Homo sapiens: one gene and its partners. The protein of the gene in region 4 interacts with the protein of the main gene of each other region in a pairwise test. Each region holds a gene or a part of one and is shown on either strand. Other genes may lie near its edges.

What was found.
Region 1: the proteins of ZBTB14 (region 4) and BAZ2B interact in binary tests that used the Homo sapiens proteins (3 or more experiments, as listed by UniProt).
Region 2: the proteins of ZBTB14 (region 4) and TXN2 interact in binary tests that used the Homo sapiens proteins (3 or more experiments, as listed by UniProt).
Region 3: the proteins of ZBTB14 (region 4) and EPM2AIP1 interact in binary tests that used the Homo sapiens proteins (3 or more experiments, as listed by UniProt).

The regions. Positions count from the first base shown.
Region 1 is NC_000002.12:159,319,229-159,327,096, forward strand, and holds part of BAZ2B (bromodomain adjacent to zinc finger domain protein 2B), read right to left. Parts: intron 6,691-7,868; coding exon 6,425-6,690; intron 5,727-6,424; coding exon 5,583-5,726; intron 1,191-5,582; coding exon 1,037-1,190; 3' UTR 1-1,036. UniProt on the Homo sapiens protein: Regulatory subunit of the ATP-dependent BRF-1 and BRF-5 ISWI chromatin remodeling complexes, which form ordered nucleosome arrays on chromatin and facilitate access to DNA during DNA-templated processes such as DNA replication, transcription, and repair.
Region 2 is NC_000022.11:36,465,911-36,471,873, forward strand, and holds the end of TXN2 (thioredoxin, mitochondrial precursor), read right to left. Parts: intron 2,008-5,963; coding exon 1,894-2,007; 3' UTR 1,136-1,893; downstream 1-1,135.
Region 3 is NC_000003.12:36,989,264-36,996,942, reverse strand, and holds the start of EPM2AIP1 (EPM2A-interacting protein 1), read left to right. Parts: upstream 1-3,811; 5' UTR 3,812-3,865; coding exon 3,866-5,689; 3' UTR 5,690-7,679. Other genes in the region: DNA mismatch repair protein Mlh1, read right to left, coding at 234-324, 3,280-3,395.
Region 4 is NC_000018.10:5,292,199-5,300,088, forward strand, and holds the start of ZBTB14 (zinc finger and BTB domain-containing protein 14), read right to left. Parts: upstream 3,529-7,890; 5' UTR 3,454-3,528; intron 3,224-3,453; exon of another isoform or gene 1,983-3,223; intron 1,804-1,982; 5' UTR 1,774-1,803; intron 1,130-1,773; 5' UTR 1,049-1,129; coding exon 1,046-1,048; intron 7-1,045; coding exon 1-6. UniProt on the Homo sapiens protein: Transcriptional activator of the dopamine transporter (DAT), binding it's promoter at the consensus sequence 5'-CCTGCACAGTTCACGGA-3'. Binds to 5'-d(GCC)(n)-3' trinucleotide repeats in promoter regions and acts as a repressor of the FMR1 gene.

The DNA of each region.
Region 1 (7,868 bases), on a different chromosome or scaffold from region 4:
CTATGAAAAAATACTGTGTGCGTAGGAAATTGTCACAATTTTATTCCACATGGATACAAATGATTATACTTTAATTTAGGCCCTGGTGGCTTAAAATTATATAACAAAATAGAAAAATGGAAAACTAATATCCCCTACACCCTGTTTCAAAGGCAGGCACTACCAAGATTAAGGAGACGCCACAGTGTTGGTAGAGGATAATTACTGTACAGACTGTATAGCTATCATTACCTTCAGACGAAAATAAAATGCTACAATCCTCTAAGGCATGAACAATAATGTCTGCAAACAATATATACACATAATACATATTTAAAACAAGACTTAATATAAACAAGAATGAACAGTATATACATGTCAATTTTTTCACTGTTTTGAAATACAATTTAACTACACAAGTGATGCAGCAACATATATATATAAATGTACTTGTAACTCTACAGTAAAGTTTCTTTTTGGTGCTTTTATAGCACATCAGTGTAAACAGTTTAACTTGGCTTTGTTTTATATTTTAAAACATTCCTTGTATTTTCAAGATTTAAAGCAATTTTCTAGTTCTTCCTTTTCACAGAAAACGAAGATTCTGGATGTGGTTTAATCATAAATAATTCATAAAATTAAATACATTCACTAAAAAATAAACTACAAAGTAAAAAAATGAAAAATAGATATTTATTGAGAGGGAAAGGAGAACCATTTCCCACATTAGAGCTCTGGTGTTGAGTATTCAGTGCGATTTGATATATTTTAATTGCTATTGCACTATAACACCCTTTCCTTTGAAAATTCTTTGGGTGTGCTTCCCTGTTCTACCTAAATTAGCTGATAAATCACACAAACCAATAACCGAGGGCCTTGGTTGTTGTAGGAATGAAGCCTTTAAAAATGGTATCATTCTTCTGATACTTTTTTTTTATACTTAAGGAAAAAGAAAGTCATTATGTATGTGCCTTGCACGTTTATGTAAATACAGTTCACATTGCTGGTCTCATTTGTCCTTGTTTAGAAGGAAAAAAATAAAGAGATTATTATAACTTCAGCTCACTTTGAAAGTATCTGTCCACTTTTTTTCAAAATACTTCCTCATATTGTGGCCAGCTCTGCCTATATCAGAATCATCTTCATTAAATGTTTCACAGTTGTCAAAAACAAGCCTGACATCTAGAGCAAAGGTTTCAAGGTTTGGATACCTGAAAGAAAACAAATAATTAGAGATTGCGTTCATAGAGTGGATTTGTTTTGTAAACAAATGAAGAGTTAATAAAGGGTAAAAATGAAAGAAAAATGATTAGGATAACTGCATTTAAATTGATATAAAATACATGATATCCTCTTACAAATGGAACATTTAAACATTTTTGTATGTTCTGGAACATACTGGATTTAAAGAACAGGTTAAATGAAAAAATAGGTTTCTCCAAAGATCAAAACATATTTCAACTGGCATTTTCCCCATAACCCAACTCCTGTTTGACCTGTATCACACAATTCTGTCACAGGACCTATCCCACTTGACTAGTTTATTAAGTTCTCTGACCAAATGTATCACTTGCAGAATCCTATTATCCATATTAAAAAATGCTCAGCTGCAGTAGAAATTATGTCAATGCTCCCCATGCAATGATAAAAATTACACTTGTCCTGTAGCTTCTATATACACCCCAAGATATGGTGCTCTGCGTTGTCTTCCCCATTTCCCATTTCTCTTCTCTTCATATGTGCTCTTCTGCCCAAGCAATAGAGTATGATGAACCCAAACAAGCAAAACAAGCATATGCTATCTTTCTACTAGAGGTAACATTATGAGGGTCTGTCTTTCAACAAGAAGCACTGTGGCTTCTGTGCTTTTCTGGCGGGATAAGCCCAATTCTCTTTCTCTGTAGAAAAACAGAAAAGAGAAAAGAAAGGTGAATGAATCTGCATAAGCTTATTAGTAAGAAGGGAATGGTCATTTCAAACCAACTCAAGCCAGTTCAATACATTTTAAAAGATAGCTTTTAGAAATGCAAATTTTAAGTTAATTCTAACCTATGACAATCTGTATACTAAAATAATGTAACCATTAAAAATATCTCATGAGTGTAAATTAGTACAACCACTATGGAGAACAGTTTGTAGGTTCCTCAAAAAAACTAAAAACAGAGCTACCATGTGATCCAGCAATCCCACAGCTGAGTATATACCCAAAAGAAAGGACATCAGTTTATGAAAGAGATATTTGCACTCCTATGTTTGGTGCAGCACTGTTCACAATAGCCAAGGTTTGGAAGCAATCTAAGTGTCCATCAACAGACGAATGGATAAAGAAAACATGGTACTTAAACACAATGGCGCACCATTCAGCCATAAAAAAAGAATGAGATTTTGTCATTTGAAACAACGTGGATCAAACTGGAGGTCATTATATTAAGTGAAATAAGCCAGGCACAGAAACACAAACATCACGTGTTCTCACTTATTTGTGGGATCTAAAAATCAAAACAATTGAGCTCATGGAAACAGAGTAGAAGGATGGTTACCAGAGGCTGGGAACTGCAGTGGGGAGGTGGGGATAGTTAATGGGTACAAAAAAATAGAAGGAATGAATAAGACCTAGTATGTGACAGCACAACAAGGAGACTATAGTCAATCATAGTTTAATTGTACACTTTAAAATAAGTAAAAGAGTAGAAGTGGATTATCTGTAACACAAAGGATAAATGCTTGAGGTGATGAATACCCAATTTTCCATGATGTGATTATTATGCATTGCATGCCTGTATCTCATGTAGTCCATAAATATATACACCTACTGTGTACCTGCAAAAATTAAAATAAAAATTAAAAAAAGAGAAATACCCTATGAGGCACTGACGCTGTGAGATCTTGTCAAAGTGGAATTCTATTTCTTTGGTGAAATATCTTGTATGACCTTTCACTCGCTTCTTCTGTGCGATAATGAAAGAAATATTTCTCTATGCGTAATGTGCTCACAGAGTTAAGTCAGCCCTTATGTAACCTCATCCATTTTCCTAGGAATTACTTGCTTATTTTTACTGAGGTTAAGAAATTCACATAAAATTAACCATATTAAGGTGGACAGTTCAGTGGCATTTAAGTCACAACACTGTATTATCGTCACTTCTAAAACACTGTCATCACCCTGAAAGGAAACATCATACTCATTAAACAGTTATTCCCCATTCCTCCCTCTTCCCAGTACCTGGCAACCACCAATCTTCTATCTGTCTCTATGGATTTATCTATTCCAGATACTTCATCTAAATGGAATCATACAATCTGTGTGGGAATGATTTTTACAAAATATTTTAAAGTTGATTTGAGAACTACTTCTGCCTTTGTTCCTTACCCTAAGAAAAGGTTAATGATTAACATTAGGGAGAGTGGAGTCCAGGAGAGAATTCTAGGTGAGATTCTAGGTGAAAAAAGTATACAACTCATATGTGTGTCCTTCCTTTATGGGATGGGGCAGCTAATGGAACTCAGAAAAATTCATGTAAGTAGGCCCCTCCCTCTATTCTAAAAATTTCTAGTTTAAAAATTTGAAATATGGTTTGTGAGTTTTGGTTCCAACTCATTAATTTGGGTTTAATCAAACAACTCAAAGTGGAGAGTTCGAGGAGCTTGAATCCACTGAAATTTTGCTTCCCACACACCTGGCATCACAAACAGGAATACACAGACTGTTTCCTTCTCTCTTTCTCTTCCCCTGTGACTTCCTCCATTCACTGGGACTCATTTTTCAAAGGAGCTCTGATTTTGTAGCTTTTTTTTTTTTTTTTGAGACAATCTCACTCTGTTGCCCAGGCTGGAGTGCAGTGGCGAGGTAACTCACTGCAACCTGCACCTCCAGTTTCAAGTGATTCTTGTGCCTCATCCCTGAGTAGCTGGGACTACAGGCATACACCACCATGCCCAGCTAATTTTTGTACTTTTAGTAGAGATGAGATTTCACCATATTGGCCAGGCTGGTCTTGAACTCCTGACTTTAAGTGATCCATCTGCCTCCACCTCCCAAAGTGCTGGGATTACAGGCGTGAGCCACCTTGCCTGGCCCATATGATTTTGTAGCATTTTTTTGTTATAAATATTTCTAAGCCTATTTGTTTTAGGAATTTTGAGGTTTACGTTAATCTTTTATCCAGGAATTGGAAGATCATGGAAGTTAAAATCAAGAGTTAATTTAAATACTAGTAAAGTCTTCATGTGTAATTCTTTTTCTTGGCCATGTTAGTTATAAATTTCATTGTGCCATCTACCTAGACAACTATTTTGATAGAACAAACAAAAGAGGCTGGGTGAGGTGGTTCACGCCTGTAATCCCAGCACTTTAGGAGGTGGAGGTGGGCGGATCACCTGAGGTCAGGAGTTCGAGACCAGCCTGGCTAACATGGTGAAACCCTGTTTATACTAAAAATACAAAAAATTAGCCAGGCATGGTGGCGTGCACCTGTAATCCCAGCTACTTGGGAGGCTGAGGCAGGAGAATCACTTGAACCCGGGAGGCAGAGATTGCAGTGAGCCGAGATGCACCACTGCACTCCAGCTTGGGCAACAAAAGTGAAACTCTCTCAAAAAAAAAAAAAAAGAACAAACAAAAGAACTAGTCCATATCTAGGTAACAGTGTTTGCATATTGGAACCAATCAGTACCAATCAATCATTTAAACGCTTCCTTAACTTAGGCAGGTCCCTTCTGTAATTAAAAAATAATAAAACAAAACAGACATAAACCTTTGGACGGCTGTTATTTCATCCTCCAAAGAAATAAATTTGTCATTTGGTCAATCTAGTAAATCAGTTGATATATGTGAGGGATGCTGATCATTATAAGTTCTATTTAACTCTTCTAAATTGAATATAAATCATAGAGAACAGTTATTTTCACCAAAAGAATGTATAGGAAGAACTAAATAATATACTGGATAATAACAATGTAATTAAAATATATATTGTATGAGTATCAGGAAAGCCTCCCAAAGTAAGTAACTTTATTCTTGGAATAGGATTGCAAAGAGAATATGGTAGAGAAAAGCAAATAAGCTTTCTCTCCCGCATTTAATAAATGGAATTTTGGTATTCTCCAATAACTCACATTAAAGCTCTTAATATGTAAAGCTTCCAAAGATCTTCTATTTCTACATTGTGATAATCTAACAATATTTGAGTCAATTTTTGTTAAATCCATATGACGTGTGGTTGATACTCCATGGATGCAAAATACAAATTCCGGCTTATATGTTACTTACTTTGGGAGGCTCTCCTGATACTTTTCCTTACCTTCAGCTTGGGTTTGTGGTGCTCTTTCAATGTCAAAAGCAGGTTTATTACACGGGTTTTTAATTTCTTAAATAATTTTAGTTGGTTTCTCTTCTATACTATTCTACTCTAACCAAATACACACACACACACACACACACACACACACACACACACACACACACACACACACACACACACACCTGCCTCAAAGGCAGGGCCTATATCTTGCTGTTAATTAAAATATCTTTGGCTCACTAAAAATATGCCTAGCATATATCAGGTATTCAATAAATATTTAGTGAACTGAAATGATTTACTTACTGTCCACTACTTAGTTTCTCTCTAATTGTGGAAAAATCCATAGGCTTCTTAATAACTTTCTTATAACCAGGAACAAGTTTCAAGTTTACAGGAAGTAGAAAAGGCCATGCATCCTCATGAGTTTCCATTTCAGTCAGAATCATACTAAAGAAAATAATGTTTGAAATCAGTATCCATACTTTACAACTGTCTTATTTTTTAATTAAAAAAGCTTTCAGTTATTATATATATATTATATATATATATATATTATATATATATATATATTATATATATATATATTATATATATATATATATATATATTTTATATATATATATATATATATATATATATATGAGATAGGGTCTTGCTCTATCGCCCAGACTGGAGCACAGTGGCACCATCTCGGCTCACTACAACCCCTGCCTCCCGGGTTCAAGTGATTCTCCTGCCTCAGCCCCTCGAGTAGCTGGGATTATGGGTGCACGCCACTATACCCAGCTAATTTTTGTATTTTTAGTAGAGACAGGGTTTCACCATGTTGGCCAGGCTGGTCTTGAACTCCTGACCTCAGGTGACCCACCTGTCTTGACCTCTCAAAGTGCTGGGATTTCAGGTGTGAGCCGCTGTGCCAGGCCCAATTATAATCTTTCAAATAAAAACTCAATGCAAATTAACATTAAAAGAAGATAAAGGAATACATTTACTATACTTTTACTTATATATTTTCTTAACATTTATGCTTTACATTTTTTTATTTACATAAATTATCAGAAAGAAAGCTTTAATATGGTAAAAGGTTTCTAAACAAATAAAATGGGGCATTATAAATATACAGTGCATGAAAACGGAAATAATACCTGCAAAGAGCTAGGTCCTTGGAGTCATCTCTTTTAGGTTTCTTAACTGAAGTAAAACTTTCTTGTTTTGACAAGTTAATAGAAGTGTTTTCCTCCATTTTTCTTTTCTTGAGGTCTTTGTTTCCTCTTTTTAGTGAACTACTTGTAGATGCAGAGTCTTCATCTTCAGTATCTCCTGTTAAAGTTACCTTCTTGCCTTTCTTTGACTCATTAGTCTTTTTTCCTTTGACATGAAGTTTTTTGATTTTTAGAGTTTGACCACTTGCCTTTAATTTAAAAAAAAAGTAAATGAGGTGTAAGAAAGTGACTGTCTACAGACCTATTATTTTAAATTATGAAAGTCTGACAGGACAAATAAGTAAAAAGAATAACTCTGATCTAGAATGTTGATAACTATTATTCTTAAGAAAGATCTGTGTATTTTTTCCTCTCATAATATAAGGATAAAATCTAATAAAACATGAAAAGTCTATTCATCTTAAGAATTCTTAAAACTTGAAGATGCTAATCTCATGGTAATTCATCTACAGAAGGTGTCTGTAGTATTCTTTCAGTCTAGGTCACTACTTGAATGAGTTTAAAGATACAAAAGAATTCTCTTTTGGAGCACAACAGAATTAGGAACAAAGATGAATATAAATGAAAATATAGAGATTGTTAATAAGAAAGTTGAAGAGGTAATAAAAAGCCAGGCCAAAAAATGAAAAAGAGCTAAGGAAGTGTCAAATAGAGAAGTCCAAGTGATCAAATCTACTAGAAATTGATTTGATTTTTTTTCCTGGATAAAAGATAACAGGTATTTGCAATAAGAAGAGAGTTCCACAAACTTGTGGTTCCCAGGTGTGAACAAAGCAGTGGTGAAAGATGGGGCAAAAAGATGTCTGTTTTTGAGAAAAACAACATAGAAAGAAATGACATAAAGGACATTATACTTGGAATCGAAGGATATGAATTCCAGCTATGGCTCTGCTACTAACTTTAAGCAAAAATATTTGTGAGGCCCTGTTTTCTCACTTAAAAAATAAGGATGACAAGCCACATACTTGCTAAAGTCATTCTAGCTCTAGAATTACATGCAAAAAAGAACTCTCAACATGGTCTTATGCAATATAACTACAAATTGCAGGCAGCACACTGATGCAACAAGAAGGGTGCCCCACCCTGTATTCATAGAGAAAAAAAATCTGCCTTTTGAGAGTTAAATGTTATAATAAATATAATAGATCATGAAAGAAAGATATGTAAACTTCTGGCAACGTATGGCTTTTATTTTTATTTTCCAAATATGTGGTACACACCAAACACTTTTAGAAAACTACTATTCCCTTAACCAGATTGTTAAGAAATCCTAGACTGCAAAGTCACATAATCAGTGTAGCAATAATTTAAAGTTGGCTGCAATCTTTTTTTTTTTTTTTGAGGCAGTCTCGCTCTGTTGCCCAGG
Region 2 (5,963 bases), on a different chromosome or scaffold from region 4:
AGGCAGCGAGGGTGGTTCCTGGGGGTGGGTGTGGAAGGCTGCCTGGCCTTGAATCCCAGCTCAGCCACTCAGGGGCTTTGTGACCTGGGGAAGGCTCCTCAACCTCTCGGGGCAGGTCTCAGGTGGAATCTGAAGGGCAACGCCTTCCCGCGGGGCTGTGCTGAGCTGAGACCCTCAAAACAGTGCCAGGTACCTGGGAGGTGCCTCCTGAGTCTGGGCAGGTCCTGCTCATCTTAACCAGGGCTTTTGGCCTTTGCAGGATGTTCACTCCACCAGCTTCCGTCTCCACTGACGCCAGTTGCTGGTTTTGTCCCCTCCATGTGCTTGTGACAGACCCCAGGGTCTGGGGTCCTTCAGAGGCCACGGGCCCCTCTCCTCCCTCGGTCTCGGCAGCCTTCCCAAGGCAGTCCTTGGGTGGGCCCCTGGAGAATGCAGACAGTTCTAATAGAACAGGGTGAGCCTCTGAGAACAGAGCAATACCAGCCCCATGGCATCCCTGGGGCCACGGAGTAGGGTGTCAGGATCCCCCTGCCGCCAAGCACCTGATTCACAGGAAGCTGGGGCCTCATCCAGGCAACCGAGCCCTAATGACAGCTTGGCCCTAGGAGCAAGGCAGACGGAAGGAAGGCTTTCTTGACTGGCAAGCCTGGCTCCCTTGGCACACTCCTCTATGGCCAAGGGGAGCTGGGGGCCAAGAGGGGTTGTCTGGTCCCAAGGCCCAGAAGTTCCTGCAGGCACCCATGGGAAGGATAGCCTGATCCCCACAGGGCCAGGCACCTGCTGGGGCAGCCAGGAGCCCTGTCAGTTGGGGAGGCCTCAGAAGGGTCAAGGGGATCAGCTGTGGGAGCCCAGGTTTCAGAGGCAACCACGTCTGGATAGAAACCCCAGCTCTGCATCCCATGAGCCACAGTGTCTACATCGGGGTAATGGGGACAACAGCCTCTTGCCTTAGGAGGGCACGAGGACTGGCACATGGCATCCTTAGAATAGCAGCCACTGCTGACAAGCATGTTAGTGAACAGGAAGGGCTGGTTGGAGAGAGTGTTGTGGAGTTAGGGGAGGATGTGGGGACAGTGGACAAGCCCCCTGGGAAAGGGTGACAAGTGCTCTGAGCCCACACAGATGTGACATTGCAGATGGTGCAGACCCTTGCTTTATTTGTCTGACTTGTTCACAGTTCAGCCCCCTGCTCAGAAAACCAACGGGCCAGCTAAGGAGAGGAGGAGGCACCTTGAGACTTCCGGAGTCGAGGCTCTCCAGGGTTCCCCAGCCCATCAATCATTTTCTGCACCCCCTGCCTGGGAGGCAGCTCCCTGGGGGGTGGGAATGGGTGACTAGAGGGGATTTCAGTGTGGGACCCAGGGTCTGTTCTTCACAGTAGGAGGTGGAAGGGATGACTAAGTTCTTTATCACAGACCTACAAAAAATGAGATAATTAGATATTACTCTCACTAGTTTGGGCTTCTTTTTTCTTTTTCTTTTTACAAAACAGCAGCTGGAAAGAGAAATGTAGGTGGCAGACGAGCCAGGCACGAGGTTTCAGATTGGAAGGGACCAAGATGAGGACCAAGGTGTGGCTGCCTGACTAGGAACGCTGTGGGCTGGCCCAGGCTCTCGCCACACATCCTGGGAGAACTGCCATAGGCCCTAGAAGGAGGGATGAAAGGCGTATGGGAGGGAAGACAGCGGTCCCCGGATCAGCAGCAGCACCACCATCCTCTGATGGCCCCTGGGCAGTCCGCCAGCTCGGAAGCACTCAGGGCTGGAGCCTGGGCTCTAAGCATGGGCCCCAGGAGCCAGACAGGAGGGAGGCAGCAGGAAGGGCTGGCATGGAAGGGCTGAGTTCTATTGGGGTCCCACGCGGGCAAGGGAACCAGGACTCATCCCTGCTTGTCAGCCAATCAGCTTCTTCAGGAAGGCCTCCAACTGATCCTCATCCTTGATGCCCACAAACTTGTCCACCACGTCCCCATTCTTCATGGCCAGCACAGTGGGCACCGCTGACACCTGGGTGGAGAGGACAAGGGGGTCCAAGTGAATTGGGAGTGAATACTTCTCAACTGCCACTCCTGAGCCTTTGTGGGGAAGGCTGGTGGCTTATCCAGGGCACTGACTTCCCAAAGCCATGGGCAGGCCTAGAGGAACATGGCTCTTCTCTCGGTGCAGGGGTACTGCAGGGCCCGGGGGCCACCCGCTGAAGAAACGTCTTCCATTGCGGGCTCCCAACAGTACCCTTCCTCCCTTAACCACAAGACTGACTCACTGGCCCAGTGGTTTTGCTGGAATGACAGGAGAGATGAAAATAACCCTTGCAGCTGCAGGCCAGGGCTGGGGGCAGGGAGGAGCTCAGGGGAAGCCTGGCCCAGGAGGAGACAGAAGCTGGGGGACAGTTCGAGTCCTGGCTTTGCACTCACTAGCAAGGGGGCCTTGGCCGGGTCACAGCACCTTTCTGAGCCTCAGTGTCCTTTTCCATAAAATGGGGGTAATGTCTACCTTTAGGGTTTGGGATGAACATTAAAGATTCAAGTATAGGCTGGGCACAGTGGCTTATATCTATAATCCCAGCCTTCTGGGAGACTGAGGCTGGAGGATTGCTTGAGTTCAAGAGTTCCAGACCAGCTTGGGCAATATAGTGAGACCCTTTGTTTACTAAACCCCCCCAAAATATTAGCCAGGCATGGTGGTACATGCCTGTACTCCCATACTCGGGAGGCTGAGGCAGGAGGATCGCTTGAGCCTGGGAGACTGAGGCTTCAGTGAGCTGTGATTGTGCCACTGCACTCCAGCCTGGGTGACAGAGACCCTGCCTCAAAAAAAAAGAGAAAGATTTGAGTATAAAGCAGAGCTCAGGCTGGGCGCGGTGGCTCACACCTGTAATCCCAGCATTTTGGGAGGCTGAGGTGGGCAGATCATTTGAGGTCAGGAGTTCGAGACCAGCCTGGCCAACATGGTGAAACCCTGTCTCTACTGAAAATACAAAAATTAGTCGGGCATGGTGGCAGGCACCTGTAATCCCACCTACTTGGGAGGCTGAGGTGAGAGAATTGCTTGAACCTGGGAGGTGGAGGCTGGAGTCAGTGGAGATTGCACCACTGCACTCCAGCCTGGGTGACAGAGTGAGACTCCATCTCATAAATAAATAAATAAATAAATAAATAAATACATAAATAAAGCAGAGCTCAGGTTCTGGCGGACGCAATCCGGCTCCTACCAGCCAGGTGAGCTGGGGCACGCCCCTCAGTCACTAAGCCTCAGTGTTCTCAGATGCAGGATGGAGATACTAAGGGCACTGCCATTAGAGGGCATGAAAGCTGAATGAAATAACGCAAGTAAAGGCTCAGCACAGCGCCCGGCAAATAAGCTTAGGAACCTGGCATTGTGCCTGGCATACTGTGGGCATTCAAAAAACAGTGGCTACAGAGGGCACAAGGAAAAGTCCAACACAGGCCCCACGAGAGCACATTAGCTTGCTGCTGTGATGAGTGACAGGGTCCAGAAACTCAGGGACTTCTACTGGACAGCATGAGAGGAGAGGCTTGGCCATACACAACCTGACGCTTATTAGCAGGTTGCAGGCAGATGGCAAGGACAACATTCTTGGTCTGTGAAGCATTTACTCAGTTCCCTCAGGGACCTGCATAGGTTATGTGGAACGTGGATGAGGCTGTGGCCCACCAGACTGGCATTGTGAGGTCTCTGCTGCCTGGGATCCCTGCCTGGCATTCGTGGGCATTTGAGAAAACCATTTAAACAGAACAAGATAGGCCGGTCGCTGTGGCTCACGCCTGTAATCCTAGCATTTTGGGAAGCCAAAGCGGGCAGATCACTTGAGGTCAGGAGTTCGAGACCAGCCTGACCAACATGGTGAAACCCCGTCTCTACTAAAAATACAAAAATTAGCCGGGCGTGGTGGGGCATGCCTATAGTCCCAGCTACTCGGGAGGCTGAGGCAGGAGAATCGCTTGAACCCGGGAGGCAGAGGTTGCACTGAGCTGAGATTGTGCCATTGCATTCCAGCCTGGGCGACAGAGCAAGACTCTGTTCCCCCCCTCAAAATAAATAAATAAAAATAAACAGAACAAGATAAACACAGACTTTTCTTACATACAAATTAAACTACAAAGTAAGAGCAGAGATTCACACAAACATACCAGGTCTTCACATATCCCAGTGCTGCCCTGCCACGGCCCATCTTGGAAGCCAGTAAGATTCAGAATGTTCAAAAACCATGCACATGGTAGTTAGGAAAGGCACGCAGGCCAGACCATCCCGCCCTCACCCACTAACTTTACGTGGCAGGCCCTGCACCCCACTCCTCACGGACACTTTGGGGACAAACACAGCAGGTCACAGGACACAGTCCTTGTCCTTGTTAGTGCCTCAGGCCCCTTCAAAGGCTGTCCCTGGGCTGATGTGGGTGGCAAACCCTGTCTCCAGGCAGAGCAGGGCCCGAAAGAGTTTGCTCCAGGAAGCGCCTGAAGCCACCAGGGCCTTCCCAGGCATTCTTTGGTGCCCTCTAGTGGTCTGCAAAGGCAGCTGGAGTGCCTCAAAGCCGGAGCCTCTTGGCAGAAGCAGAGAGCTCAGCCACCGGCTCCCACCTGCACACTGTCCTATTCCTTTAATTAAAATATATGCTTTATGCCACTGTATAAGAAGTGGCCTAACTTTTTTCACGGCAAGACTCTAAGTTCACTGAAGAGGCTCAGAGAGTGGACTTAGCGTTCCTTAAGAACTCCAGATAGGCACAAGCACAGTGGCTCACACCTGTAATCCCAAGTACTTTGGGAGGCCAAGGCAGGAGGACTGCTTGAGGTCAGGAATTCATGACCAGCCTGGGCAACATAGCAAGACGTCGTCTCCATAAAAATATTAAAAAAAAAAAAAAAGAACTCCAGATGAAGGCCATAATGATCTCACTCATGTAAACCTCCACACATGCTTGAACACGCACAGACCCTGCTGGTGTCAGGTAGACAGCAGATGTGCTGTCAATGGAGGTCTGGTCACTACTGATCAAGGGGATATTTTGAAGTTGAGCTTAAACACACACACGCATACACACATATATACACACACACACATACACACTACCCGCACTAGGGGCTCACAGGAAACCTGAGCTGGAATGGGACTTCCCTCGACCCTGAGGAGGCGGCTGAAGCTCTGCTGCTCCTGTGTCTGGCTCACACATCAGGAGGTGCCGGTGCCTGTAAACACTGCCTTACATGGAAGTGCACAGGGCCTTGGCACATTCTTCTGGAATGTTTTGAGTGTGAAAGAGGCAGTGACTGAGCCAACTGAGGGGCTGAGGAAAAGATACGCTACGACGTGTTGCCTGTCCTGTTCCGTGAAGCCACTTGGAACCTCCTATCCTTGGATAAAGACCCTCTGAACTCGGCAGGAGTGGGGGAGTGTGTACGTGTGCGCAGTCTCTTTCTGCTAACCCGTAGCTCGCCTGCACCGCCACTGAGCTCCGTGTCCTGGTATGTCTTCTCCTGTCCCACCCCGATGGCATCCATCTGTTAACTCAGCTAAGGGCCTACCAAGGGAAAGGCACAGTGCTGGGTGCTGCGGGATGTTGCAACCTCCTCCTCGGCTCATTGCAGAGTTAAAAGGAAAAGATCGCTGTCACATGCTGGGTGCTTTTTCGTGTCAGGAATGATATAAACACCTCTATACACTATCTCACACTCTCCTGGCTGTGGGCAGGATCATTTTAACGATGAGAATACTGAGGCTCAAAGGGTGAGCAACTGTTCCAAAATGATGTGGTGTAGGACAGGCGCGGCAGCTCCTGCCTGTAATCCCAGCACTTTGGGAGGCTGAGGAAGGTGAATCATCTGAGGTCAGGAATTCGAGACAAGGCCGGCCAATGTGGTGAAACCTTGTCTCTACCAAAAATACAAAAATTAGGCCGGGCGTGGTGGCTCACGCCTGTAATTCCAGCACTTTGGGAGGCTGAG
Region 3 (7,679 bases), on a different chromosome or scaffold from region 4:
CCACCACTATAATGTAAGCATCAGAAGAGAATAGATTTTAATCTATTTTATTCACTGACACATCCCCTGAACAGTGCCCAGCAAATAATAGGTACTCAATAAATATTTATTGTTGGTGTTGAATTTTTCAGTGAAAAAATCCCATCTGCAAAAGCCTAGTTTCCAGAACAGAGAAAGGTCCTGACTCTTCCATGAAGCGCACAAACATCCTGCTACTTTGAGGTTTTACTTACCCTGATCCCGGTGCCATTGTCTTGGATCTGAATCAACTTCAGGCCTCCCTCTTTAACAATCACTTGAATACTTGTGGATTTTGCATCTAAACTGGCAAATCAAACAGAAAATAATTTATCAGTCTGCAACTACTCTAATGTACATATTTTAATATGAGCCAAGCAATGATAACAAACTCCAAATACAAACAATAGTGCCTCATTAACGTGTTTTTCCTTTGTCTTACAGGCTCATACACTGTATGAGTTTACATATTGTGTGAGAGAGAGGGAAGAGACGGGCAGAGCAACCATCATTTCTAATAGGACATTCAGCACTATTTCTGTTCCTCTAGGAAAGACAGCAAGTGAAGTTAAAAATAGATTTCTTTTGGCAGATGTCTCTTCTCAACTAATTTTACTTTTACCTGAACTTTATTCAGCCTCAGGTTCCTAAGTGACTCTAATAAAATGTCACTAAATAATGTCACTAAAAAATAAAATTCTGAATGATTTTCTCTACTATTCCCTTTTATATTTACGATGGAGGGGAAAAAAAAAAGTAATGCAGAAAGTTAATAAATCTTTAGGAAGTCAATGAATTTTCTGGCCAGGCGCAATGGCTCACACCCATAATCCCAGCACTTTGGGAGGCCAAGGCGGGTGGATCACCTGAGGTCAGGAGTTTGAGACCAGCCTGACCAACATGGAGAAACCCCATTTGTACTAAAAATACAAAATTAGCCAGGCATGGTGACGCATGCCTGTAATCCCAGCTACTCAGGAGGCTAAGGCAGGAGAATCACTTGAACCCAGGAGGTGGAGGTTGCGGTGAGCTGAGATCGCGCCATTGCACTCCAACCTGGGCAACAAGGGCAAAACTCTGTCTCAAAAAAAAAAAAAAACCCAAAAAAAAGAAGTCAATAAATTTTTTGTGCTTTCAAAGAGTAGCCTATAAGCACAGACCAACTGCTAGAGAAAACAAATTTTCTAGCAGGGGCTGCATGAGAAAGAGTTATCTATTCCCCACACAGACAATTCTTTATTCAGAAATAAGATAATAGGCTGGGCACGGGGGCTCACACCTGTAATCCCAACACTTGGGGAGGCTGAGGTGGGCGGATCACCTGAGGTCAGGAGTTCAAGACCAGCCCGGCCAACATGGAGAAACCCCGTCTCTACTAAAAATAAAAAAATTAGCCGGGTGTGGTCATGCACGCCTGTACTCCCAGCTACTCGGGAGGCTGAGGCAGGAAGATCGCTTGAAACCAGGAGGCAGAGGTTGCCCTGAGCCAAGATCACGCCACTGCACTTCCGCCTGGGCAACAGAGTAAGACTTCATCTTAAAAAAAAAAGAAAGAAGACAATAAGTTACTTAAATATTACAGACATTTCTCATGAGCCCCTGTATTGAAGTTGTATTAGTCATCTCAACTTATATATTAAAAAGAGTATAACTGGACTCCATATAAAAATCTCCACTTGAGCCGGGCGCGGTGGCTCATGCTTGTAATCCCAGCACTTTGGGAGGCCAAAGCGGGCAGATCACCTGAGGTCAGGAAATCGAGACCATCCTGGCTAACATGGTGAAACCCTGTCTCTATTAAAAATACAAAAAACTGCAGGGCGCGGTGGCTCACGCCTGTAATCCCAGCACTTTGGAAGGCTGAGGCAGGCGGTTCACCTGAGATCGAGAGTTTTGACACCAGCCTGACCAACATGGAGAAATCCCATCTCTACTAAAAATACAAAATTAGCCAGGTGTGGTGGCACATGCCTATAGTCCTAGCTACTCGGGAGGCTGAGGCAGGAGAATCTCCCTTGAACCTGTGAGGAGGAGGTTGCAGTCAGCTGAGATCGCGCCACTGCACTCCAGCCTGGGTGACAAAGTGAGACTCCGTCTAAAAAAAAAATAAAAAAAAAATAAAAATCTCCACTTAAGTAATTAATTACAAGCCACCAAGCTAGTATGTTTAGTTTTGTTTTACAGTATTCTGGCACAGTACAATAATAGGCCCAGTTGTCCTGTCAATTCATTCTAACACAGTAGAAACAAAAGCCAGTCTGCCATTGCTTCTGTTACTACTATTACAAGTGAAAAGGAAAAAACATCCCCAGGTTCTTGCTCCTTCTTTCATCTACCTTCCAATTCTCTTCCTTTCCTTCAGTGGTCCTTTCTACCCACTGTTCTCTCAGTCCCATTGCCCTGAATAGTTTATACTTTCACAATAAATCCCTCTAGAAACCTACCACTCCAAACTGAAGCATTCTTTTTTCTATTAACGTACGGACGTCACTAACAACTGATTTTAACAAAATAATCTGACATAACGTTTAGGTGTATTTTGGGCTTGTCTTTTTGGAAGTTTATAGTCTGCACTCACTTTTCCTTCCACATGTTTCAAATCTCTTCCCTTCACATTTTTTGTCACAGTTATAAGCTTCAAAATCCAAGGATGACCCATAAAATCTGGTATCTTCGAAGTGCGTCCTCCGAAATAAAGGACAGGAAAACACTAAGAGGGGTCACTAATTTAACAATAGGGTAATCAGAAGTCAAGCCCAAAGTGCATCAGCCTGTCCTAAAACTACAAACGATTTGTTTTGAAAGAAACTCAAAATGAATTGTGCCTTTGGATGTGAACAGATGATTTCTGGAATGAATGAAAAGCAAGAAAACAGTAACACAGTACCCTCTGAAAAAAGGTTTTTCTCCCCATCTTAAGCTTTTATACATCTTTTAACTTCGCATGTTCTGCATACATAATTTTAAATTAAGTGGCTTCCTTACTTAGTTAACGGTACCATTAAGACAACACTACGTATATTCCTCCACTTACACTCCAAACAACCCTTAAAAGGTCTCGGGGGAGAGCGGTAAAGAAACACACGGTCTGCGGAAAAGGAGAAGGCCTGACTGGCACGTCAGGGAACCCGGCGGCCTCCGCCGTTGTGGGCATGCGCTGTACATGCCTCTGCCCGGGCAAAGAGGCGTGTCCGCGCCATTGAGTGACGCGGCCCGTTAAGTCGTAGCCCTTAAGTGAGCCCGGCTCGACTCCCTCCGTACCAGTTCTCAATCATCTCTTTGATAGCATTAGCTGGCCGCTGGATAACTTCCCCCGCCGCGATGCGGTTCACCACTGTCTCGTCCAGCCGCCGAATAACCCCTGCCACGAACGACATTTTGGCGCCAGAAGAGCCAAGGAAACGTCTAGATGCTCAACGGAAGTGCCTTCAGCCAATCACCTCAGTGCCTCGTGCTCACGTTCTTCCTTCAGCTGTAGCTTACGCCATCCAGCCCCACCCTTCAGCGGCAGCTATTGATTGGACAGCTTGAATGCCAGTCAAATTTCTCAACTCTGTGGGTTGCTGGGTCTCTTCGTCCCTCCCTGAAGCGGCTACTGCCCGCTACCTAGAAGGATATGCGCTTGCGCGTTAGAGATCGCTGTCCGCTCTTCCTATTGGTTCGTTTTTAGGAGCTCGGGGAATACGAAATATCCAGCCAATAGGAGCAGAGATGCCGGAACCGGGCTTGTGTGCCTCTGCTGAGGTGATCTGGCGCAGAGCGGAGGAGGTGCTTGGCGCTTCTCAGGCTCCTCCTCTCCCCTTGCGGCCTTTCTAACGTTGGCCCTGCTCTTGTGGCCTCCCGCAGAATGTGGATGACGCCCAAAAGAAGCAAGATGGAAGTCGACGAGGCTCTAGTTTTCCGGCCCGAGTGGACCCAGCGTTATTTGGTGGTGGAGCCTCCGGAGGGCGATGGGGCCCTGTGCCTGGTCTGTCGCCGCCTCATCGTAGCTACCCGCGAACGCGACGTCAGGCGCCACTACGAGGCTGAGCACGAATACTACGAGCGGTATGTGGCGGACGGCGAGCGCGCGGCCCTGGTGGAGCGTCTGCGTCAGGGCGACTTGCCCGTGGCCTCCTTCACTCCTGAAGAGAGAGCTGCTCGTGCAGGCCTCGGGCTCTGCCGCCTCTTGGCCTTGAAGGGTCGCGGCTGGGGTGAGGGGGACTTTGTATACCAGTGCATGGAGGTGTTGCTGAGAGAGGTACTGCCCGAGCATGTAAGCGTCCTGCAAGGCGTTGACTTATCTCCAGATATCACAAGGCAGAGGATCCTGAGCATTGACAGGAATCTACGCAACCAGCTTTTTAACCGAGCCAGGGACTTTAAAGCCTATTCTCTTGCCTTGGACGACCAGGCTTTTGTGGCCTATGAGAACTACCTCCTGGTCTTTATCCGCGGTGTAGGCCCTGAGTTGGAGGTGCAAGAAGATCTTCTGACCATAATCAACCTGACTCATCATTTCAGTGTTGGTGCGCTCATGTCGGCAATCCTAGAGTCCCTGCAGACAGCAGGGCTTAGCTTGCAGAGAATGGTTGGACTGACCACGACCCATACTTTGAGGATGATTGGTGAGAACTCAGGACTCGTCTCATACATGAGAGAAAAGGCCGTAAGCCCCAACTGTTGGAATGTCATTCATTATTCAGGATTTCTTCACTTGGAACTGTTGAGCTCCTATGATGTAGATGTTAATCAGATCATAAATACCATATCCGAATGGATAGTTTTGATTAAGACCAGAGGCGTTAGGCGACCTGAATTTCAGACTTTACTAACGGAATCTGAATCAGAGCATGGTGAAAGGGTTAATGGACGATGTCTGAACAATTGGCTTAGGAGAGGGAAAACTTTAAAACTAATATTCTCTCTAAGAAAAGAAATGGAAGCGTTCTTGGTTTCAGTAGGGGCAACAACAGTCCACTTCTCAGACAAACAATGGCTTTGTGACTTTGGCTTCTTGGTGGACATTATGGAACACCTTCGAGAACTCAGTGAAGAATTACGAGTTAGTAAAGTCTTTGCTGCTGCTGCCTTTGACCATATTTGTACTTTCGAAGTTAAGCTGAATTTATTTCAAAGACATATTGAGGAAAAAAATCTAACAGACTTTCCTGCCCTCAGAGAAGTTGTTGATGAGCTAAAACAGCAAAATAAGGAAGATGAAAAAATATTTGATCCTGATAGGTATCAAATGGTGATCTGTCGTCTCCAAAAAGAATTTGAGAGACATTTTAAGGACCTCAGGTTCATTAAAAAGGACTTAGAACTTTTTTCAAATCCATTTAACTTTAAACCTGAATATGCACCTATTTCAGTGAGGGTGGAGCTAACAAAACTTCAGGCAAACACTAATCTTTGGAATGAATACAGAATCAAAGACTTGGGGCAGTTTTATGCTGGATTGTCTGCTGAATCCTACCCAATTATCAAAGGGGTTGCCTGTAAGGTGGCATCCTTGTTTGATAGTAACCAAATCTGTGAAAAGGCTTTTTCATATTTGACTCGAAACCAACACACTTTGAGTCAGCCATTAACAGATGAGCATCTCCAAGCCCTGTTTCGGGTTGCCACAACTGAAATGGAGCCCGGTTGGGATGACCTTGTGAGAGAAAGAAATGAATCTAATCCATAAGGCTTTGTAGTACAAGATTGAAAAACTCAACAAGAATTTAATTCTAAAAGCAAAAATTGGTTTGAGTTTTCAAGTTTACTAATTTGGATTGTGAGAAAGTACCAAGTACCAGCCGTCCAAACTGATCACAATTAAAATTCTGACAGTTGCCTTTTTTTTCATCTCAAATGGCAGCATGGGACTGAAACATGAGAATGCCACCTTTTTTAAAACTTAGTTTAGTGACAAAGTCATTGTCTTTTATGATATAGTTAATTTTAAAGAGATTTAGTATTAATGTGAGTTGAATTTGCAGTCTGTTTTTTAGGTGTTCTGAAGATAAATGCCAAAAATTTCAGCTCTTATTTTAATGGAGTGTTAAAATTCTGATTCATATAGTCTTAAATTATCAACTCCTTAAATGTGCTTTTGAACCAATTTGCAGAAGCTCACATAGCAAGTTCATAAGTTTCCAAAAAGGAAGCCCATACATAACAGTGGAGGTGTTTTGTCTAACCATCAAAATGTTTGAGACTTTTTTTTAAACATTTCTGAGTTCGAAGGTAATACTGACAGATTTCTTCCCTCTTCCCTCCCCATCACCCACCTCAGTGATAACACATTACTGATAGAGGAAGTCATTAGAATCATTTTTAAGTTTCAGATATAGGAGACTTCATGCAATTTGGAGATAAGACTAATTATTGGGGGTTTTCCTTGGATTTTTTTTTTAATAACTGGGGGCTATTTTATCAGCTTGCCTATTAAAGGACTATGGTAAGTATAGAATCTTAATGGTTGCCAGTTAGTAATTCTTTTTTTTTTTTTTTTTACTGTAGACACAAGTTTGGCCCTATCAAAAACGATGAGGAAAAAAGATTGCACTCCAGGATTAGGAGGTGTGAGATATTTTAGCTTTTTTGTCTTATCTGCGTGGGTATTGCTGCTTTATTTTAAAAAATCCTGCCTAAAGTAAACACTTTGTTTTAAAATGATACAGTATCAGATTTTGTTAGATGCTAGAAATGGATTTATTCTAAAATTTGGAACTGTCGTACACATTCTATATGTAAGATAGCACACAAGTAGAAATATTTAAAAGCAGTCTTATTCACAGATTGCAGTAATTCTGTATTTCTACTAAGATAATCTGCTTTGTGCCAAAACAGTAATTTCCAAACTTCTGTTCACCATGAAAAGGCAATCTTAAAGTTCATTATGTAAAACTAATTATAAACAGGACCCAATTTATATTCATAGATCCTCTCAAGTATTATACAATTTAAAAACTCTTGTTCCAAAGTCCTGTCTTAACTATTGAAACACCTTAATCTGTGGTTACTAATCCAGCAAATTCAAGGAACCAGGCTATGACTAAGAATTTAGGTGGAATTGATGTCTGGGCAATTAAAATAAATGGCATAAGAGCTTAAAAACCAAAGTTGTGCCAGTGGCTTTCAACTAGAGGCAGTAACCTGTCATTCCAGAGGATGCTGAGAAATGTGTAGGGGCACTTTTTTGGTTGTCATATTTACTAGGGGCTTCTGTTGGCATTTAAGCCTAAAGACACTCACCCCTGCAGTGCATGGGACAGCCTGGCACAATGAAGAATTAGCCCTCCCAAAATGTAGATTATTTTATTTCAAGGGATAGGGCAGATTACCATTAGAAGCAAAATTAAAAGTACAAGCTGGGCAAACTGACAGAATACTAGATAGGAGAGACTAATTCCAACCTTCTAAATTTGGCTAGTAAAGTGCAATAAAGGCATTGATAAGTTCTGTTAGCTCACCATAGCACTTGTAAATCAGGAATTAATAATTGAATCAGATTTAAGGGCTCTGTCCTGTTATACATATTTAAGGCAGAAAAAAAGTTACATGTCGATTAGGTACTTATCAAGAATGGTCAAGCTGAGATTTTGGTTAATAGAGTAAGCTTACATATCTAGAGAAACAACATAGTGGAAAACCGAAAAAAAAAAACAGAAAAATCTACCGGTAATTTCCCA
Region 4 (7,890 bases):
AAACTCCTACAAAAAAAAAAAAAGTTTAGTAATTATAAATAGTACTTTTCCATATAGAGAACACAGTCACATTTTCATTTCCTGGTCAATCTATGGAACCTAACAATTTCAGAAAGTCAATGTTAAGAGTGGTCTTTGAATATGGGTAGAAAAGACTGATCCCAACTCAAGGATCTCCATATTGTTACTCCTGTTCATCTTCAATTTACTAAGTATTTGCCTAGTTATATCCCAGGCATTGTTCTATGTGCTTTACATGTTTTAATTAATTTAATATTCAGGTAACCTCATGAGTACGTATCACTATCCTTATTTTAGAGACAAAGTTAGAAATCTGCCCAATATTCTATAGCTATTTAGTGAAGAGCTGGGACTTAAATGCAGACAATCTGGCTGCAAAACCAGTGCTTCCTGACTAGAGATAATCAAATAACTCAAACTCAAGTTTTAAGAAACAGGTTCAAGGGAACAATCCTCTAGTCCTCTCTGTTGCACCTACTCTTATTCCATCTACTCTATGGAGGATTCAGCAAAATAATTATGTTATACCTCCTTGACAGAAGGAACAAATTACTATTGCAGAACTAGAGAGGAACATTACTGCCAAAATATCCCATTGAGTGTTGTGTTCTAGATTTTCCACAGCACTTTTGGGCCACTTCTAAATGAAGGTCAAGGTTTAATCTGACCTTAAGAGAATGAGATGACATTTGGGAAGTGGCTTTGTTCTCTCTAGATGCCAATCTACCTGCATCCAGATAAAAGTGCCATCAACACCAGATGTAAGTACTTGATAAGTGCTGAGAGTATTTTATAAGCAAAAATTTGGAACTGGCATGAAAGATCTCTGTCATCATGTTAAAAAACTGGTCATCTTAAAGCATTCTCTATGTTTCCTTTTTAAAAACATTGTTTTACTTTTATTCGGCTAATATTTTCCCCCAGACAAATAGAAGTGTTCATGCACAATCAGAATTGGTATATATATTTTAAAGCAAATGCCAAGTCATTTTCATCAAGATTTAATATCCAAAGTTATAGTTACCATGAACAACTCAGGCTATTATCTTAATGCCTTGAACGCCAAAATCTTCAGATCAGAGTAACTCTGATCAGGAGCACGCCAGACCTACAGAGGAAAGGATAAACAAGAATGAGGTAGGATCTTCCTGTATCCCAAATCCTAAACCAAGAATTGATTTTTTAAAAATAAACTTTCTTGTTCCCTCTTTTGTGCATTTTCAGGTTGGGGAGAGTGGCAGGTAGGTAGCTGGTACATCAAGTGCAGTTCTGAACAGATATGGACTAGAACAGATAAGGGCTGTAGCACTCGGGCATAAAGGGGCTGTGCCCTAGGAACTGGAAGGAGGGGTTGGAGAACCATTAAGGGATTTCTCCTCACACACTAAGCTCATGTCCATATTTGTACAGAGATTGATGGCTACACAGATATAGAAAAAAACAAGTGCACCGTGCCCCCTACACCTATCCCATTTCCCGCTGGGTATGTTAGCCCTCTACATTTTTCTCTCGGCTCATACAAACCTATAGAAGTATATACCTTACAAATAAAGCTATAGAAGTACATAAACCCAACAGGTAACATGGGAGGAGAGGGAACAATGATTGCTTTTTCTTTCTGCACCTGTGTGATGTATTAATAGCATACACGTTTGTTTTTAAGATTGTATTTGATAAATCCAGGTGTTTTTACCTCTATCCCTACAATAAGGGTGAAAGAATTTCAGCTTTTTTGTGAGTTTTAACTCTTACCGGAAGAACTCCATCCTGCAGACCCATATCCTGAAAAACAAAAAGTTTCCTCTACTGAACAGTGACCACACAGATAAGTTGTTTGGTGTGGTAGGAGCAAAGGACTGGGCTGTAACAGTCTTACACAAAAACCATGGAACAAGACTCCAACCTGGAGACCAACACCTTGAAACCCATAATAAGCTCCTTCTAAAGAAAAGTGAACACACCGAGCTACCCAGCGTAGAAGCGGGATGTCTCATCTGAAGTTTGAGGTTAGGCAACATTTCCAAAAGATGATTCTGACTTGATCATTCTACGTGTTTCTGCCTCTCTATTCCCTAGAAGCACCCAGGCCTGTAATCATCCAGAGGCTAGGCAGCCCAGCAAAAACCTTACACTGTGACACTTACTACTGTTGTCACTAACTCGTCCTAGGGCTTGTGGGATAAAAGTGCATGGGACCAGAGAGAGGAGTGGCCTTAGACTAGCTATGACAACATATCAATGTGTTGTTGTTGTTTTGGCTAGTGTGTACTTGGCCACTCGCCCCTCTCCCCTCTCTCTCTCAAGATGTATGAGACCTGGAAGAGAGACCATGTGTGTCCAAAGCCGCCTCCTCCCCGCCCCGCCCCCCTTGCCATTGAGATGTCCAATTGCTCAGTTCAGGTGAGTCAAAACTGGAAGACAGCTGTTGCCAGCATCTGTGTAGGCAGGTGTAGGAAAAGACGTAGCCCCAACACCACCTTCATAATAAGGCTGCCCCTTCCTAATTGCTCTCCAAACTGCGGGCGCGCTAAGCCGCGTTACAGTGCAGGGAGCCGGGCTTCCCGCAAAGCCAAAAACTTACATAAGCAGCTGCAGCCGCCTCCCCTGCCCCGGGCAGCCCGACAATGGCGGCTGCACGACTTCCTTGTTGCAAGCTTGCAACTTCGGAGTCGGGAGGAAGCAGGGAGCCAAGCGCAGACCCAAGAAGCCCTCAAGGCGTATCGAGTCCTCCCTCTCAATTTCTTTGGGCCTGGGAGGTGGGGAGTGGAGGAGGCCGTTTGCACTCCTTCCCAGACAAAAGCTCCCAGCCTGGGAGCCAGGTGGTGAAAGGGCCACTTTCCCTTTCATAATCAGACGTCGAGCGCAGGCTTGGGACCGCGGCTCGGAGCGCGCAGGGAGGGACTGCGGCCCGCGGCGGCCCCGGCGGCGCGACGAGCGGGAGCGGGCGTGCGGCCGGCTCCGCAGCCCCGCGCCGCGCCGCGCCCCGCTCCGCCCGCGAGCCCGGAGCTCGCGCCCCGCGCACTCCCCGGCCAGCTCGCGCCGGGCCCTCCCCCGCCCTCCCGCGGCCGGGGGCGGGGGCGGCGCGCGGCCGGCTAACCCAAGCTCCGCGGGCGCACCCGGGAGTGCGTGCGCTGGGTCCCGGCCCCCTCCTCCGCCGGCGGCTGTAGGCGGCGCGGCGGGGCCCGCGGCTCGGAGGGGCGGCGCCCGGCGGGCCGCGCTCCGCGCTGGGTTCGGGCCGTCCCCACCCCCACCGCGGTGCACTGCGGCGGTGCGAGCGGGGGCGGCCATGAACTCGGCCGCCGAGGCTCTGCGAGCGCGCGCGCGGGGCCGCCGCCGCCTGGCCGCTCCCCGAGCCCGCTCGCCGGCCCGCGCGGCCCCCGGGGCGCCCCGGCCCCACGCCCAACCCTGGCCCACGCCCGTCCCCGCTCGCACCGCGCCGCGCCGCTGGCGGCCGCCGCACATCCTGGAGCTGGCTGGTGCCCCAGAGCTCGGCGAGAACGCGCGTCTTCCGGGCCGCCCCGCCAGCCGCCGGCCGCCCCCGCGCCCGCCTTGCGGACGGCCCCAGCCCCTTCCGCACCCTGGCCCGCGCTTACCTGCAGCCTGGCACAGGCACAGACACTGCCGTGGGTTCCCCGCGCTCGCTAGCAAACGCAGGCCGGGACCGGAGGGGCTCGGGGCGCGGGGGCACGGTGGGTGGCAGTGTGTTTTGGATTTTTTTTTGGAGTTTGGGGAGGGGGCGGGGTGGGGGAAATCGTGCACGTCCCTGATGGTAGCAGCCCTCCTCCTGCACGAGCACAGAATGTCTAGCCGGCCGTGAACACCCCCACCGCCCCCCCCTTCCCGTGCATGCGCGGTGCGGGCTGGGGGGAAGGCGCGCCGCCGGCTTGCGCAGGCACGGAACCCGACCGGGTCTCTAAGTGGGCGAGCAAAGAAAGGGTTAATCCGGGCCCTTGCCGACGCTTTCGTTGGAGACTACGGGGCCGCCCCCGGAGGGCCCTGGCCTGCGCACGCGCGCGCACGCGCGCGGCTTGGGGCGCGCGGAGCCCGCGCGCGGGAGAAGGAGTGGGCGGGGCAAGGGCGGGGCTTCGGGAGCCAGGGAACTTAAGCACGAGCGCTGCTCGCGGACACCCGCCCCGCCTCAAGCTCCCTCCCGCCCTGGTTCGTGGGCTTCCGCCCGCGCCCGGCGCCGGCGCAGCGCCGGGGACGCGGGAGCCAGCGCTCCCGTGCGTGTGCATGTGCGTGGGCCAGAGCCTCCCCCGGGCGCGCGCAGGCCGGGCGCTGAGGCTGCGGGGCTCTGCCGCGTCTCGGAGCGGGCGCCCCGGCCACTTTCGCCCTCCGCGCACACCGGCCGACACCGGGAGGCGCGCCCACGGGTCTGCGGTCTTGCCTCTTGCCGCCGGCACATTGAGTTTGTGGGGGAGTGGACGGTGCACAATAAACACTTGCAGAACAAATGGAAAAAGCGACGTCTTCGATTTGTAGTGTAAAGCGCAACCCCAGTTGCCCAGCAGAAAGGGATCACCCATAGGGCTTCGGAGCTAGTAGGTCCGCGCCCGGACACTCCAAGGAAAAGTCCAGGGGCTGGAGGCGGCGACCCGTCTGTGGCAGTCCAGACCCTGGACTCGATTCGGAGAGCTCTGATAACTTGGCTCTGTCCTTAACATCCCTGCTCAGCGCCAGTAATGGCTCCGTTGCTGTTGAACCACGTCGCCTTCCCTCTGACGCGGCGGCTGTGCCTGTGTCTGGCGTCGGGAGCTGGGAAGTCCCTCCCGCTCCCGCGTTTTCTGCTCACCGAGATGCAGGAGGCCGGACAGCAATGCCGCGCCGCCTTAGAGTCGCTCATGTTGCTTTACCTCACACGCGAAGTTTCCCCGAAACGCGTAATTTAATATCTAAAGATTAGAGCAGAAGCTTCCTCTTGGGCTTATTGAAGATGACATAAGATAGTGCTTGCAACAGGCACCTAAGTAAACATTTGGGAAATAATATGATGATTGGATGTGTTAATTTTCTAAAGGAAGTTCTATATGGCCTCAGTTGATTTTGTAATGTTAATTGACTTTGGTTTAACGTTCCCCAAGGCGACTTTATACGCATCTTTTTTGATGTTCACAAAAGCACCCAAGTTACGGCTTATATGGAGGAAATAGGATGGAAGAGACCGGTTGTAGAGTCAGACATATCCAGTTCACATATTGGGTAAATTGTTTAACTTCTCTAAACCTCAGCTGAAGGAGAGCTATGGAAAGCACCTAATAAGGCACTTGTAAGGATTAAGTGAAATAATGCCCAGCTAAGGTATTAGCTCCATGATGGAAAATCACCTGCACCCACAGATAGTGGGTTCCAGTGGCCTGGACAGAACCAGAACCAAGTCTTCTGCCACGAAAGTTCACACTCATCAGACATGATACCGTGTACTCGCTTTATTCTTGTTTGCGTAGCTCTTGAAGTTGCATTTCAATCCTGTGGATGCTGTGTGTTTATAGGGGGATAATAATAGTACTCTGTCATAGGGTTGCGTCACCAAGCAGTAAAGCAGCCACTGCAGTTAGCACAATGTGTGGACACGGCCAGTACTCAAGTCATGGCGCATCTGCTGCTGGCGCTCCCCCTTCTCCCATACCACATATGGGGTTTCCCACTCATTCTGCGTGTATTTTTGGTCTGCCTACTGTGTAAAGACAATCTTTTCGCATATGGCTAGGAAAAGACTTCCCACGTTTCCACTAACCCGATAACATAATTCACAAGAGTTCTAAAGCACTAGAATGCATTTCTCAAGTGACGGTTCCTGACATCCTGGTTTTGTATCAATGAATCCTCTTGTCTCATTTGTTTTATGTTCATGTCACCTGGGCTCTGCCTGGCTGTCCCTTGCTGGTTCACAGGGGTTGTGGGGATGAGTCTAAATTAAAGGGACAACTCTGTGGGAAGGTGGAGGGATGGGAAACCACAAAGGAAAGGCCTGACCCAAGCCTGGCTTCTCGCCTGTGTCGCCACCCAAAAGTGCACTTCCCAGCACCCAAGAGGCTTTCAATAAACATCAGCGGACAGTAAGTGACAACCTTGAATTTGATACTAAGGGGCTTTGTAAAAGTACACTGTGGCGTCAACGCGGGGGCAGGGCTTTCCTGAAATGCACTGACCCAAGGTCCTTGACAAAGTTTTCCTCCTTTTCCGACAACTCTGATGGGTGACATTTGGAGCACGTTGTTCCTCACTTGGGACACCCATGGCCTCCTGAGTGGAACCTGTTTCTAAGAATTGTGAGGCCCAGGCCATGGGGCCCGCAGTGTGCAGTCCCGGGTGCCAGGGTCTGATGTGGTTACAGAGCAGCCCAGTAAGGGACCGTTTGGAAACATTATGTCTCACAGGCGGGGGAGGTTGATTTCTCCCTCATGTTGACCTTGGGCCCTCTGGCTGGTTTTGAAACAGCAGGATACCAGCAGATGAGAGTGGGCCGGGTCTGAGTAGAGGTTTTGAGAGCAGCCTTTGTTCTGCGCCTCCTCCTCTGCTGTGACGTCCAGCACAACACGACCATGGTTAGGCCACAACCCCCTCTTCAGCTTGGGCCCTTGAATGACAAACAGACCTGAGAATGAAGCCAACCCAAAACCTGAGCACAGCCAAGCCTAGAGAGAAGACAACTCACCCACAGACCTATGACTGAGAAGTAAATGTTTGTTTTATAAGCCACTGGGAGGTTGGGTTTTATGCTTTGTTACTGAACAAAATCTAATACATCTGTGCAAGGAAAAGTGTCACACCCAATGCCATAACCACCTTCCCCCTGTGACTCTGAGAACACTTGATACAGCAAATGAACAAAAACCCGATCCAATCCGTGTCATCATGGAGATACTGATGTGCACATTCAACAAATAATCACATCGTTACACAATTGCACATTGCAATAAGTGTTTTTATAGAAAGTTAAAAAACACAGAATGTGATGAAAAAGAGGAACAGGAGGAATTAATTTTGCCTGGGAAATCAGTGAAAGCTTCTTCAAAGGCATACATTTAAGACCTGAAAGATGAGGGAGAGATTCGCAAAGAGGGGGAAGAAATAGCATTTCAAGACAGAGACAGGAACAAAGTGAATGCAAGGGTGGAAGGAGCTTGAAGTACCTCAGTCTCTGCAAAAGTGGACATGAGATGTGTTTGTGAGAACAACAGTGTCCAGCACCTGTAGGGCCTTGTGGTTTATAGGAAGGGGTCTTCACAATGACAGCCCCGAAAGCTTGGGCCATTTAGGTGGAGGGGTTGAATCAAAGGAAGGTCCTGAACATCTGCCAGGGCAAGGAACATCAGGACAAGCTTGTCTTGTGCTTGTGGAGGAATTGCTGCATGAGGATGGAGTTGGCCATGTGGAACGATCATTCTCCTATGGATCAGAACTGGTGGGGCATCTGGTCGTCTCTGGGCACCAGACACTTGTTTCTTCTTCCTCTGGAACCTGGTCATTTAGATTTCCTCATTGCCTTTTGGGTTAACATCGAGGAAACTGGGTGAAGAGTTTCTGGAAACACTCTGTGTTATCTTGACAACTCTTCCATAAATCCAATATTATTGTAAAACGAAAATTATTCCTGTTCATGTAATTATTTTTTCCTAGATACTTTCAAGATTTTTTTCTTTGTCTTTAGTTTTCAGCATTTTGATTATGGTGTTTTCTGAGTAGGGATTTCATTGCTTATACTGTTTGGGGATTGCCGAGCTTCTTAAATACATAGGTTTATTTATATCTTTCTCTAAATTTGGGAAGCTTTCAGCTATTATTTTTTTCACATTTTTTTTCAACAGCATACTATTTCTCCTTTGTTGAGATTCCAATGACAGGAACGTTGAGTTTTTTAAAAATTAT